4 linked regions of the Homo sapiens genome follow. The protein of the gene in region 4 purifies or fractionates together with the protein of the main gene of each other region. This does not show direct contact. Each region holds a gene or a part of one and is shown on either strand. Other genes may lie near its edges.

Region 1 (3,500 bases), on a different chromosome or scaffold from region 4:
TAATAAAACTGATGTCTAATATTTTAATGTAGGGCCAAATAAGTAATTATTATTTGATGATAAATATTTGTAAGTGACTGAGTATGGTTCTATGCTGAAACACTCATTTAAGACATATACATTTACTGTTGTTAGTATTTAGATGAATCCATGAAGCTCAGTTGTCACCTGGAATATAACTATTTTTCCGTCATCGGCTTGAAGATAAAAAGTCCATGAAGAGGTTATGAAGCTCTGTGCGGAGTCCATCATGTCACTCCAGAATGACCTCACCAGAGTTAGAGGAAAGAGTAGGTGCATTTTTGGCATCAGGGACATAAGCTAAAAATAAAATAAATAATGAGAAATATATTATTTTTATATATGTATATTCAAAAGAACAATATAATCAAGATTACTCCAATCCTTATTGGGACAGGATACAAACAATTAAATACATCTACCATAATCAATAGCATTAGAGTAAACTCTTAGTTATCTATGCACATTATGGTAAAGCTTAAAAACCAAGGATACTTTAATTTGCCACCAAACACACTTACTAGCTACCTGTCACCTCTATCAGAATAACAGGCTTTTGAATTAAGTCCAAAAATAAGAAGACTCTTAAGATGTAATTAAATAAGGACCAGCAAGGCCTTAAGGGTAGAACGGGAAGGGACAAATCGTATCATTCTCATCTTTAATGCTTTCATCAAGAATAAATCATGCTATAATGAACATCAATGGAAAAGAGAACGGAAAAAATCAATCAGAAGAATATATACATAAAATGGTAGACATCTGACAACACGACAGGGTGAAGGGAGTATTTATGGGCTGAATATATGTAGTAAGCTACTGATAAGATTTTAATGGCCCAGCGTGGTGGCTCACACCGGTAATCCCAGCACTTTGGGAGGCTGAGGCGGGTGGATCACGAGGTCAAGAGATGGAGACCATCCTGGGCAACATGGTGAAACCCGATCTCTACTAAAAATACACAAAAATTAGCTAGGCGTGGTGGCGCACGCCTGTAGTCCCAGCTACTCAGGAGGCTGAGGCAGGAGAATCCCTTAAGCCAGGGAGGCAGAGGTTGCCGTGAGCCAAGATCATGCCACTGCACTCCAGCCTGGCGACAGAGCGAGACTCCATCACAAAAAAAAAAAAAAAAAAAGGATTTTGACAAATGATATCATCTTTCCTCCAATTCTGATTTCTTGACTTCTTTAGCAGCACTGGGCCTCTCTAAAGCACAAGTGTGGGATGCCATTTACTAAACTCTAGGGATAGCTTTGGTTCTGCTTTGTTTCTTTTTTCATCTGTTTTTTTTTTTTTTTTTTGAGACAGTGTCTCGCTCTGTCACCCAGGCTGGAGTGCAGTGGTATCTATGGTAGCACTTGGGCCCAGAAGCTTGAGGCCAGCCTGGGTAATATAGTGAGATCCTCATCTCTAAAAAACATAAAAATAAAAAATGCATATACCTCTTAACTCAGCAATTCTAGCCCTATGATTTTATTCTACAGGTATACTCACAAATGTGCAAAATAGGTATCATTTACAAAAGAAAAAGATTAGGAACAACCTACATGTTCACAAATAAGGGACTGCCTAAAAAATTATAATATATCTACACAGAATATTATGTAGTAGAAAAAAATTAGTAGAAGCTCTTTATGTATACTTATATTTACAAAATATATGTGTACATCCTTGTATACGCATAACATATCTATGCATTAGTAACCTTGGCTACATTCAAGAGGGAAAACTGAGTGGCTAAGAGACAGGAGTGGGAGACTTTTCACTATATGTATACTCTTTTTATCTTTTGAGTTTGTACATGTGACTATTTCCTGTGCAAAAATCAATAAAATTAAGAAACTTTTCCCAGTATGTCTGGAGAATAGAGTATGAAATTCCCTTGTCAGGAATTTTAAGAGATGGCATTGGAGCAGTAATCAGGAGTAGGTTGTGATAAACAGTTTGGACTTAAATCTATATGTAATTGGGAGCTACTGATTATATAAGACAGGAGAATGGCATGATGAAATTTAGAAAAAAAAATCTGGACACAGCAAAGGATGGAGTTAGACAGGGTTAAATTAGAAAAACAGTTTGGAAGTTAATTTAAAAATACAGACAAGAAATGATTATCTGAGTTAAGGCAATGGCAACTGTCCAATGGGAGTTGGGATGGAGAAAAAGAACTCTGAAATAATTCCTCTGAGCCTTGGTTTTTTCATATGTAAAATGAGGATAATATCTTCACTGGAATGTGAGAAGAAACAAAATAAGATTATGAACGTAAGCATAACTTTTAATAGTAAAGCATTATACAAAAGCAATTATTCAACTGACTTTTCTATTTGCAAACTAATTTTGTTTGCTGAAAGCCAAATATAAAATATAACACTAAAATAGGATCAAGTGGGTGATAAACACTTCAAGCAATACAAGTCAGTGCCATCTAAGCAGGCTAGTTTGAAAGGCAGTATTGTTTCGTACTTGTTCTTGTCTCAGTTCAGCGAATGGCAGCTGATTCTGGCAACCAAGATGGCAAGCATATTGCTCATCAGATTGGGAATATGCTTCTGTACATGCTGTAAGAGAAAAATAGTCAAATTACAAGAAACAAAAGAGAAAGGGAAAGAGGAAAGAAAAGGATTTGGCATTTTATTAAAAAAATTTTTATACTTAAAAAGGTTTCATCAATGTGAATTTCCAAATTTGGTAATATAGTAGTAGGAAATGTATCTTTAACAGAACTCCATATTGTCTCCCTCCTACAAGTCAAATGTTTTAGATACAAATCTATTAATTATACACCCAGGCTCTGGCCACATGATGACATTCATATAAGAGGATCCTTGTGTGGTGGAAAATGCACTGGATTGGCATCCTGAAGATGCCACTCAAAAAGGTTTAGTTCCATCATTTGTTGGTGTGTGTGACCTGAGCTGAGCAGTTTAACCTCTGACTATTGATTTCTATATGTGTAAAATAGAAATACCACAACCTATTGTATAGGGTTGAATGAAATAATATATTTTAATGATTTATACAAATATAAGGTATTATTGTTAAGAACCAGATCACTCAGTTAAGAAGTAAGGGTATGCACATGGCAAAAGAAAAATAAAACAATCAGCCTAACATCTGAAAGTCTAAGAAAATTGAACTAGAAAATGTTCTACAGCAGATAATTCTAATGTTGAAATGGGTCTCTACCAGATATACTCTCATTTAGTTCATTAAATCCATTTCCTTCTTGTGATATAACATTTTACCACTATCCTAATTTTATTTTTTCCCAACTCAGTAATGCATTTGTAATACACTTCTCAGAAGTGCTAGATAATAAACTGGACAGCATTATGCATATATAAAGATGATCAGTTAGGAGACTAAGCCGCAAAAATACGGTTATGATATCAAAGAAGACTGTATGTGAGCCATGGCATAGTGATAGGGGAAAAGGTGCCTCCTTCTACACTAATAAACAGTGTAACGAGTGGAGA
Region 2 (3,500 bases), on a different chromosome or scaffold from region 4:
GCAACACTATCAGCAGTACATGCAGCAGTTGTATCAAGTCCAGCTTGCACAGCAACAGGTACGATAGACAACCCTAGAATTCAGCCTTAGAGAGAGTTTTTAGTTTCATTGGAACCCAAGTTCTTTTTTAACAGTCGCAAATGAATTTTGCATTAGTTAGCCTCTAAGGTGTAAAGTAACTTTTGGGTGATCTTTTAGGCAGACTTGAGAATTGCACAGGCAATTGTGAGAGAAAATATGTGTTATCGAAGCAACCGATGATGTTATATTGTCATAAGGGTATTTGGGAGTTGTATGGGTTGAGTGTCTTTACTGTGAGTCTGGCATAGACCCTAATAGTGGTCCTGGAACATGAGGACCTGAGTAACTAGCCATAGTTCAGAGATGTCCTTCAGGCAGTGCATTGTCAGAGGCTTGGACAGCCTCCAGTGGGAGGACTCCCCTGCCCTAAGACCATGGGCTGGTTCTGCAGAGCTAGATTGGGTCCATTTGACTTTGTGTTAGGCACCATAGTTAGGCAGTGCTCATAACAGCACATTGCTATTCCTCCTCCAACTGCCTGCCCCCAAGTATTTTGCTTCCACATAGGAGAGGTTGGTTTAGGTGAAAGAACATGGGACTGGGAGTCTCATAACACTTGGATTCTCTTTGGGCTTTGACATTACCTTGTTTGATCTCAGACAAGTTATTACTGCTCTGATTGTTCTGCTCTTTCTTTCAGTCCGTAACAATAGGATATAAAATCAAAGCACCTGTCCTGTTAACCTCACAGGACTATCAGAGGAGTCAAATGAGAAAAGAGTTACCCTGTGAACGATTTTTGTACTTGTAGAAGACACTAATTTTACATTCATTTTTTACATCTTGTGCAGGCATAAAATACCTCCTTAAACTTAACGTAGCTTAGTTTAACTTACTTAATTTTCACTTATAAAGCAGTTACCACCTGTCAAAAAATCTGAGTGAAGAAAAGTGTTACATTATAGTTGCTCAGCATTTCTTACTGCATGAAATAATCTTTGTTGTTTTTGCCAAACTCTTTAAATTCCTTGAAAATGTGTATTCTTACTAAACAACCTTTTCTCCTGAGTCTTTGGCATCAGTTAGAAGTTAAAAAGCACTGCAAGTTTTTTGTAATCCTGAAGAGGAGGAAAAGATGCCAAACCAGAGTTTATTCAAGATAATAAGTGGTATTTTTGAGAGATTTATTCTCTCTCCTCTGAAGCCTGTTTCTACTTTAGTTTCACTTCCATTTTCCTGCTTCTTTGATAGGCAGTGAGATGATTTTTAATAGCACATACACTCTGTCCTGTTTATAGGTTGCTATCATTTAATGAGAAGAAAGTCAAATAGGACAAAACCGCAAATCTTTGAAACAAAACTAGAAAGCCATAATGGAGGCTGGGCATAGTGGCTCATGCCTTTAATCCCAGCACCTGGGGAAGCCAAGGCCATAATGGTTGCTTGAGGCCAGGAATTTGAGACCAGCCTGGGCAACATAGGGAGACCCCATCTCTTAAAAAAGAAAAAAAAAATTAGCTGGGCATGGTGGTGCACGCCTGTAGTCCCAGTTACTTGGGAGGCTGAGGCGAGAGGATCACTCGAGCTCAGGAGTTTGAGGCTATAGTGAGCTGTGATGGCGCCACTACATTCCAGCCTGGGTGACAGAGTGAGACCCTGTCTCGAGGAAAAAAAAAGCCATAGGCCAGGTGTGGTGGCACATGCCTGTAATCCCAGCACTTTGGGAGGCTGAGGTGGGTGGATCACTTGAGGTTGGGAGTTCGAGAACAGCCTGACCAATATGGAGAAACCCCATCTCTATTAAAAATACAAAATTAGCCTGGCATGTTGGTACACATCTGTAATCTCAGCTACTCGTGAGGCTGAAGCAGGAGAATCACTTGAACCCAGGAGGGGGAGGTTTCGGTGAGCCAAGATTGTGCCATTGCACTCCAGCCTGGGCAACAAAAGAGAAACTCCGTCTCAAAAAAAAAAAAAATCCATAATTGAGATTAGAGTGATCAAACTCAGTTTATCAAATTTATTGGTTGCTTCTGAGAAGAGAAAAGGAAAGAGACTGGGGAAGGAACAAAGGGAACTTTACTCCTATAAAATATTAATTTTTATATAAATAGCAAAATGAACACATTTGTTAATTTTGGGGTGTAGATACATTTGTGGGTGTTTGATACGTTGCTTTTATACCTTTCTGTGCTTTTTTAAACTTCCTAATAACAGGAAGAGAGTATGGAAATATATCATTACAATCTATTACATGTAGTACAATAGATTCATGGTCGGGGGTTCCCAGAGAAAGTTGTTTTTCTGCTAGAGCCTTTCAAGAAAGGATTAGTGGAGATGAGGGACCATTTGAGCTGGGCCTATTGATCATCAAAAATGCTCTTTTGCTTTCCTGTCATGCAGTGAATGTTCTGAGTGTGCTGACTTGTTTTGATTTTAGGTACTTTCTCTGGAAGCTAGTATCCCTTCTAGAAAATTGATGTGGAAATTACTGAAAATCCAGACCTTGGAAGAAGATATCTTAAAATCTTAATTGTGTTATTAACCTATATTAGCAGCAAAGAGAAGCATTGCTATTCATTTAAGTAATTGGCTTGTAAATGATACATTCAATGAAATGTGTGTAGAGATATGCCAAAATATATCATTATCCCTACCCCATGGGATCATAAAGGCTTTTTCCGTGTGTGTGTGTATGTGTGCGTGTGTGTATTTTTTTTCCTGCAGTGAACATATACGTACTTGCTTATTTGTGACAGTGTTTTAGTTTAAAACATTGCTTACATGCCCAAATGCTCATCAACAGTAGAATGGATAGATTTTATCTTTTTATGATGGAATAACTTAAAAGTAATGCAAACAACAAAATACAATTACTTGTGACTCTATAGATGTAGCTTATAAAAGTAATGTTGAGTGAAGGTAGCCAGACATAAAAAAGAATGTATACTATACAACCCATTTCTTTAAAGTTTTAAAATAGGCAAAGCAAATCTATAGTGTTATAAGTCAAATAGTTGTTACCCTTCAGGGCAGGTGCCCAGAAAGGGGTACCAGGGAATATTCTGGATGCAGATACTGTCTTGATCTGAGTATTAGTTACATGGATGTGTTTGATTTATGAAAATTGATCAAGCTGTGTAATTTATCATTTGTACACTTTCTACATGTATGTTGTAATTCAATTTATAGTTCCCCACCAAAGTTACCTAAGTAATACTCAGATATTTGAAGTAGTATCTGTCCATATTGATTTAGAAGAGGAATGTCCCAAAATAGTCCTTTGGATTTAAGATGTTTTTACTGCCATTTTGACTCAGAGGACATTTTGATTTTATATTTATGAATACACATTTCAATCATAACTATATAAACAGTGACAAATTTTCATTGAGAAAATATTTTTAACCTCAAATTGCATCCTGTAAGTCTGTTTGATTCTTAGGTCAGCATTTTACAACACGATTAACAATTTTCAA
Region 3 (2,530 bases), on a different chromosome or scaffold from region 4:
TAATTCTGAGAAGATCCCCACATGCTTTTATTATCCCCCTTTTGCGCCTACAGTCTGGATAACCACCTACGACAGACAGAAGAAATTCTCATGAGGTGAAACGAGAGGCAAACCAGGTGAGTGGTTTTCATTTTTTTTTTTAACTGAAGGACTTTTTACTACATTAAATTTTTCTTAAGCCCCCAATATATAAAAGAGATGAATATGAAGCTGCTCTGGGGGCGAACTTGCAGAGGCTTTGCTGTTCAGCTCCTTTAACCTTTCTGCTCCCTGGAACATATGGAGCATGTGCTCTGAACCCCGGAATCCCGAGAACAGTTTGAAACATGACCTCGTTGACACAGAAGGTTTCCCTCTCTAGGAGTCTAAGAGTCTACAATTGGAATTCCAAAGCCAAGCAGCATACTCAGTGGGTCCAATACACCAATGGTGAAGGAGGGACATTTATTCAAATCTACAAAGGGACAGAGCACGAGAGAGAAAAGAAGTGATTTGCAAGAAATGAGCTGATTACTTTACCTCACATTCAGGCATGCCTATAAAATGACAGCCTTGGTAGGCAGCAACCGCTTGTGTTAACGCAGACGGGTCTGCCAGACCTGCCACACACAGAGACAAAGGAGAGTTTCAGTCATGACACACACTGTCCTCCTGGCCTATGTGCAGGCGACCACAGACCACCACTGCTTGTACACTTGGTGACCAAAACAATCCCATGTAGCAAAACAGCCTGACTTAGCTCTAGTCTCTGATCCCATGAACTTATGCAAGAAATATTGAGAGTGGTTACTGTGTGGTGTTAAGAACTGTTTCCTTGTGGATAAAAACTCTGCATCTAGAAAAACATGAGTCTCTGTATAACAAACATAAGAAGTGAAGGCTATGGAGACATTCACCAGGATGGAAACACTAAAAACAAAACATCCCCTAAGACCAAAGAAGAGGAGAGCTTTCCTGATCTTTTTCTTCATATAGTGTCTAGAGTCTTCCATTTCTACCTTGGGAGCTGTCCAAAGAAAACCTTGAACACCTGACTTAAAGCAAATTTAAAAGCAGCTCATCTATTGCAATACTCTGAATAGCCACTCATGTTAGTAAAAACATTCCCGAAGAGGAAACAGAAAATGGTGACTTTATGAACATAAACATTCAAAAGCACATACACCAGGAAATAAACGACTGAGCTCAGGCATAAAGTCTTATCTTCTCCTGCCAGTCTCACATAGCCCTGAGACATTCTTCCTGCTACCCCCGCCCACCCCGCCCTGCAAAAAAAAAAAAAAAAAAAGCCACGATGTAACTGTTAGCCATTTCCCCACCCTCATGGACATAGGACTCCGGGACCCTCCCATCACACTCACCTATGTCCTCGCTGGCAAACCTGACAAGCCTCCGTGCCACGTAGAGTGGGTCCTCTCCTCCCTCGAGCATGCGAGCCAGCCAGTAGAGGGAGGCGTTCTGGTCTGAGCCCCGCATGGACTTGTGCAGGGCGGAGATGCAGTTGTAATGCTCCTCACCTGACATCACAAAGAGCACCACTCACACAGAGCTCACAGGAGGGGCGCCCAAGCCATCTTCACCTCCGCCAGCTGACTTCCAGAAAGCCTGAACGAATAAAGGCCCTGAGAAAGCCGAGGAGAGGTTTGGGCAGCTGCCTTAACCGTGCTCTGAGTGGGGTGCACCAGCTGCTGGGGCTTAATCCCAGTCCTATTCAGGGGAAGAGGCTGCTGCAGCAGAAACCTGTGGCTGTCGACATGGAGTGCACGCACACGCACAGAGGCAGGAGGGAGGAAAGGTGGTCCTCCCAGCTGGTGGATTTGCCAGAGACAAGAGTGGAGGGGGACGAGTCTTCTGTTCTGGCTCTATCCCGTGGCCCACCATCTACTGGAGGAAAAGCAACGGTGGGCCTGCTCGGAGCCAGGAGGATGTAGAGCCAAGTGGCAAGGGCAGCTGTTATAGCCCATCTGTTCCTCAGTGTCATTTCCAGCTGCCTTTCTGATATCCGAAGCCTGTGGTCATTTAAACCTCCTTCTGCCAGCCTTGGTGTGGGGACACCTGTGTGGCAGGGTCCCAGAAGGACCGACACGTGGACTAACCAGCTTCCGCCCTGAAGTGGACGGAAGCCCACTCTCTCACCGCCTGGTCTTACTACTCCATTTTTACCCTAGATTCACATGAAATCAGTGAAATGTGCTTTAAAAAAAGGCATATTTAAGGGCAAAAAAATGACAGCTAAACAGTTCTCAGGAACTAAGCAGTGGCACCTGCATACATTTCACTATTCTCTGGCCATCGTCCCTTAGGTAAGTTCAAGGAGGGGGCACCCTCCTCACGAGAAAGCGGAGGATGGTGTTCCCGTGAGTCTCACTCCTCCCAGAGGAGCACCTGGTCTGTGCTCAGCATAAGCCCATGTCCACAATACGACTGGCGCCAGCCACAAACCCTGGCAGCTGAGCTCGCTGGTAAGATGACAGTTGGTCTTCAGGTGGAGAAGAGAGCAAGCGAAGATGCTGGCCTCCCACAGGGGAAA
Region 4 (5,222 bases):
TTTCCATGTGGCACATACAGGTTCTCTGAAGCCACAGCCAGCGCAGTACTCGCTCACTTTGATGTTCTGTGGCTGGAATGCCTGAGAGGGTCGGGGCTACCTGTGCACCCCCCCCACCCTCCCGGCCTTGTTGTCACGCGTGCATTTGGGTGGCTGCATGGGCACACGCCTGTGAGGCCAGGGCCGGCCGGGTCTTCGGTTCTCTGGCTTGGCTCAGGCAGCAGTTCCTGCAGACTTTTCTCACTGCTGTTCAGCAATATGTCTCCTTTAAAATAGCACCAGGGGTTCTCAGGTTGGCTTCTGTGTCTTTTCCAGGTGCGTGTGCAAAAGGCAAAGGGAGGTCACTCTTTCCATGCAGGGCCCTTTGTCTGAACTGTCCTTGAAAGGCAGTTGTGAAGGGTGGGCCCAGACCCCCTCCACGGGACTGGGGTGGGGTGTCACTGTTCCTTAAATCTGAAAGAAAGGTTGAAAGAAGAGCTGCTCTAACAGCCAGCAGTGGCTCAGCAAGAGATGCTGAACTTCACACACCATGTGCAAATCCTATGGGGAGCCAGCTGCCCTCCCGGCCCAGCAGGGATTCCTCTCCTGCAGGGGTGCTGGATGCTGGATAAACCCTTGCACCTTTCCCGCAGCCTTCTGGGGGCCAGGAAGAAGTGAGAAGGGAGCGAGGGAGGACCAAGGGGGGAGGGAAAAGAGGAGGGAGGGAGAAGGGGGCGAGCAGGAAGGCAAGGAGAGCTCGGGGGGCTGCAGCTCCAACAGAATGCCAAAGACGGCAATTCCCTCACATTTTCCACTCAGGGTTTGAGGAGAGATTACCACTAACCCATCCAGAGGTATTTATTAGAAAAGAAAAAGTGAGAGTGAAGGTGGCGTGCCGTGAAAAGATAAGCCACGCGTTTTCTTTCTTTCAGGAAAGCCAGGTGCAGAAGGCAGATAGGACAGAAGGCACTTTGGAGCCGGCTTTCACGCACGGAGACAGGGCCCGAGTGGGACTTACGGAACTTGGTCCCCCGTAGCTGACCCTGGGCAGCTCAGCTCCTTGTGTATGAGGCGGATCAGGAACTGCACCAAAACAAAGGTGAGCCCACCTGTTACTGGAGCAGGCACAGGGCGGCCCGCGCCGTGGGCACCATGAGGACCTGGCCCGCAAGGCCTGGGCGGGTGGCTCTCTCCCCACAGCACCTTCCCTGGGGTGGCCTCCCTGCAAGAGCAGCGGGGCTTGCATGCTCAGCCGGAGGCCTGGGCTCCTGTGGGCAGGGCTGTCTGATGAGGGCAGGGCTGTCTGATGAAGGCCCACGAAGAACCAGGAGCTGCCCTGAAAACAAGGCTTTTGGGAGAGATGCAGCCTGAACTACTTCTGGGTTCAAGTCACGTTTAGACTAAAATTAATCCAATCATGAAATGTCCACAGTGGGAAAAAGGAAATAAAGACAAGAGGACCATAATGCGGGTGGCCCAGTGGGTGGACCTGCGAGCTTCTCAGGTGACTCTAAAGCCAGGTGAGCACTTCCTCTGGCGCCAGCCCTGGGGTCTGAAGAGGCTGTCACAGGACAGCCGCACCCCACTGGGAGCCCCTTGGAGGCCAGGCCTGGCCGGGGCCCAGGGCTTTCCACCAACATCACTGCCTCAGCCTTGGCTCCTCGCCGGACCCAGAGCTTTAACTCCGTGCCCTTCACATGTTTGAGGGCTCAACGCCAGCCTACAAATCCAGACAAATGATTGTGCTACCTCCAATTTAACTAGTGCATTTTCCAGTGTGGATCCAGTCTCTCCCCAAGTGGGACATCAGCCCACAGGAGGGCTCTCCCTGGACGTGGCCCCTCGTTCTTAGAGGGCAGCAGATGCCCTCAGACCCAGGGTGGATCACTGGTCCAGGGGAGGCAGGGAAGGGGTGCTGGAGGGTCTCGAGGGGCTACTTAAAAACCAAACACATGGCCCCACCACCAAGCCTCAGGCCAGAGCTCTAGAAGGCAGAAACTCTTCTATTTTCTTAGGTGCTTGTGGTTCAAGTAGGAGCTTAGGAGTCCCTTGTATGAGGTGAGTTCAAGCTGGAGAGAACAGGGGCCCCTCCTACAGATAAGATGCATCCAGCTGCTCTGCTTGGTGCATGAAAGGTGTTTGCGACAATTAGGTGGTAAAGGTCGTGGGAACACGGCAGGTACGAACAATAGTGCTGGTGACAATAGCAAGATTTTTGTTAAATAAATCCATCTGTGTGAATCTGAACCTCTAGCTCCAACTACCGGCACAGGCTTATTGTGTTTGAGCTGGTACCTTACCCACATCTACATCCTGCCAAGTGTGATGTATGAAAAGTGCTAGCCCGAAGAGGCCTATGATTATGAAAAGCTGATCATTAAGAGAGAAAAAGATGAAGAATATAGTAGCAAGTGTTATCTGTGGGTACGGGATGAACTGTAAATGGTGACAGTTCTGAAGAACAGAGATCCAATTTCAAAACATGCCCACGTGTTTGGCTCACGCATGCAAGAATGACCAACAAGGAGGGGCCCTACCAACTCCAGGAGCCCAGGCGACACGCACTGGAGACCTGAGGCCTTCGGTCGTGCGCCAGGCAGTCCTGCAGGCCCTGGAGCTGGCCATCAGTGTGTGTTGTGAGGCAGGAAGCATGGTGCCCTCTGGCCCCCCAGGACACCTGCTCAGATCATGGAGGTTCTCAGCTCCAGACTCGGGAGGAAACACTTGTCTATTTTGGTGAAAAGATACCAAAAAGCATGTTGATCAGTGAAGAGAAAAAGGTATGTCTAGTTCTTAGGTTTGAAAAGCCCAACTCAAGCTCACGGACCTGCTGCACATCCTGGTATAGTTCCTTCTCCACTGCGACAAGCCCCCGTCTCCCAAGTGCTTCAGCTTTAGGTCTCTTTCTTCCAACGCAGCAAATCCGGCTTCCTCTGGTTATTATTTACCTGTCGTGTAGTTTCCCATTCTTTTACTTTTGTCTTTTCGGAATTCCAGTGTAGCAGGTGTGTTTCTTGTAAATAACCAGTGCCTGTATTTTTAAAAGCAACCTGACAATCTCTGCTCCTAACTGATGAGTTTAAGTCCATTTATTGTCACTGTGTTGCTGGCATGCTGGGATCATTTTCATCCATGTTGCTCTGTATTTCTGTATTTACCCTGTTTTTTTCTATGCTTCCCCTGACCCTAGGTTCTCTTAGATTAAGTCTTCATTTCCCTGTATTGCCTTGAAGGTTACACATTCTATTGCTATTGGCTTGACAACATAAGAACTGCAGTGTACTGGAACTCTCATTGTCCCACTTGTACCTTACATTTTCAGTATTTCAGTTCTTTTTTATATTGCCCAAATTAGTCATTATTGCTGTTGTTTTAAACTGAGAGTCAGAAAGCTTTTTCTGTAAAGGTCTAGATAGTAAATATTTCAGGCTTTGCAGCCATATGGTTTCTGTTGCACATTCTTTTGTTGATTTTTTAAAGACATATTTAAAAATATAAACCATTCCCAGCTGGAGGATCACACAAAAATAGGCCACAGTTAGCTGGCCCCTATTTTATATGGTCAATACTCCTTTAGATTCATCCTTAGGAATATCACTTTTTTTTTGCTTGCATTTCTCCTTGCATCTCAGACTTTCCTTCTGGATCTATCTTCCTTCTCTAAATACATTGTTTAGCAATTTTTGCTGGGAGCATCTTTGGTTAAAAATGTTTTCACTTCACCCTTACTCTTGTGTGCAAGTTTATCTAGGTACAGAATTCTAAGTCATTTGATTCCTGAATCTAAGAATGTTTGTCTTTCATGTATCTGGAAAATTCTCAGCTATTTTGTCTTAAAATATTGCTTCAAATCCAGTCTATCATCTTCCTCTGGAATTACTTTCAGATAACTTTAGGCCATCTCATTTGGTCCTCCATTTTATATTTAATTTCTCTCTAATATTTTCCATCTCTCTTTTTGTGCTGAATTCTGGATAATTTCTTCATATCTATATTTCACTTCAGTAATCTTCTCTTCAGCGGTATCTAATTTGCTTTTCTAACCCATCCATTGAGTCTTTTTCCAGGCTAAAGATCACATTTTTCATTTCTATAACTCCTGTTTGGTTGTTTTTGAAGCCTGCTCTGTCTTTTCAATAGTGTCTTGTTCTTTTTTTCATGAGGTCAGTTCCTTTTTCTTATGTCATTAGTAACATTGCATATATTTATTTTTAGTTTACATAACTCTTTTATCTGCAGTTTTGGGGGAGTCCAATTCCACCATTTTTTATGTCTGTTACTGTCATTCAATGTGGATTGCTTCCTTATGTTTCATTATTTTGGATTGTGAGCTCATCTTTTGTAGGGTGTTAGCTACAGAAATCCTATGCTGCAGGGTTGAGATTTGTCCCTATTTGCTTCTGTATTACTGCCTAAGGACCAACTTTGCTCATTTAAAATATATTTATATAAGCTCAAAGATTAAAGCTGACTGTGGGGAGGTCTATGGCTAAAAATTTTCAAGGGAGATTTCTTCCCCCTAATCTGGCTAAGATGGGCAGATTCCCATTGTCTTCCTGTGCCAGTGTGCAGATATCATCTAGTATACTCTTTCACTGCAAGCATGGCTCTTCGAGGGTCCTGGCTCTATGACGAAGTCTCCAGTTCCAAATCTTCATCTTGTGCCAGCCTAACGCCTTGTCTCTTACCCAGTGTGGGCACAACCACCCCAACCCGTTGATTCCTGAGCTTGTGTATTTATATTGCCTTTACAATTCTGGCTCCTGGGGAGTTCCTTTACTTTCTTATGAGTTTGGCTAAGCATCAAAACAATTTTCAATATATATTACCAGATAGTTCTAAAGAAGATATTTCAGATTCTCTGAACAGTTGTAATGACAGGAATTTTACTGCTACTTAGTGGAAATCCATCTGGAGGCTTCATTAGAACATTCAGGCATTAAAAGAACCCACAGATGATCCAAAGAACAGCCATTTAAACCTAGTAAGTTCATAGGTTGAGAGTCGGTATTTGATTTTGTATGTGGTGGGGAAGTTGAGTTTTAGAATTTCCTGGAATTAAAATATAAGACTTTCATTTAATTGAGTGAGTTGATATTTCTGAAATTCTCAACTCATTTTTATTGGGATCAGCCTAAGGTTTTGTCTGGTGAAGTGAGAGGAGAGGCATGGCTGTGGGTCTGGGGACTTTGTGGCCAGGTGACTTGTAAAGATGTGTATGCACCCCTCACAGCTGCACATCT

The links.
Region 1: the proteins of SLC37A1 (region 4) and TMEM59 purify together in Homo sapiens (affinity purification with mass spectrometry; one large-scale study listed by BioGRID and IntAct). This does not show direct contact.
Region 2: the proteins of SLC37A1 (region 4) and ACBD3 purify together in Homo sapiens (affinity purification with mass spectrometry; one large-scale study listed by BioGRID and IntAct). This does not show direct contact.
Region 3: the proteins of SLC37A1 (region 4) and WRNIP1 purify together in Homo sapiens (affinity purification with mass spectrometry; one large-scale study listed by BioGRID and IntAct). This does not show direct contact.

What each region holds. Positions count from the first base shown.
Region 1 is NC_000001.11:54,043,205-54,046,704, forward strand, and holds part of TMEM59 (transmembrane protein 59 isoform 2 precursor), read right to left. Parts: intron 2,583-3,500; coding exon 2,488-2,582; coding exon of another isoform or gene 2,440-2,487; exon of another isoform or gene 2,279-2,439; intron 322-2,278; coding exon 169-321; intron 1-168.
Region 2 is NC_000001.11:226,155,742-226,159,241, reverse strand, and holds part of ACBD3 (Golgi resident protein GCP60), read left to right. Parts: coding exon 1-58; intron 59-3,500. UniProt on the Homo sapiens protein: Involved in the maintenance of Golgi structure by interacting with giantin, affecting protein transport between the endoplasmic reticulum and Golgi. Involved in hormone-induced steroid biosynthesis in testicular Leydig cells.
Region 3 is NC_000006.12:2,782,393-2,784,922, reverse strand, and holds part of WRNIP1 (ATPase WRNIP1), read right to left. Parts: intron 1,518-2,530; coding exon 1,362-1,517; intron 600-1,361; coding exon 520-599; intron 1-519. UniProt on the Homo sapiens protein: Functions as a modulator of initiation or reinitiation events during DNA polymerase delta-mediated DNA synthesis. In the presence of ATP, stimulation of DNA polymerase delta-mediated DNA synthesis is decreased.
Region 4 is NC_000021.9:42,575,576-42,580,797, reverse strand, and holds part of SLC37A1 (glucose-6-phosphate exchanger SLC37A1), read right to left. Parts: intron 5,032-5,222; coding exon of another isoform or gene 4,912-5,031; exon of another isoform or gene 4,842-4,911; intron 1,328-4,841; coding exon of another isoform or gene 1,063-1,327; coding exon 998-1,062; intron 454-997; coding exon 438-453; 3' UTR 1-437. UniProt on the Homo sapiens protein: Inorganic phosphate and glucose-6-phosphate antiporter. May transport cytoplasmic glucose-6-phosphate into the lumen of the endoplasmic reticulum and translocate inorganic phosphate into the opposite direction. Independent of a lumenal glucose-6-phosphatase.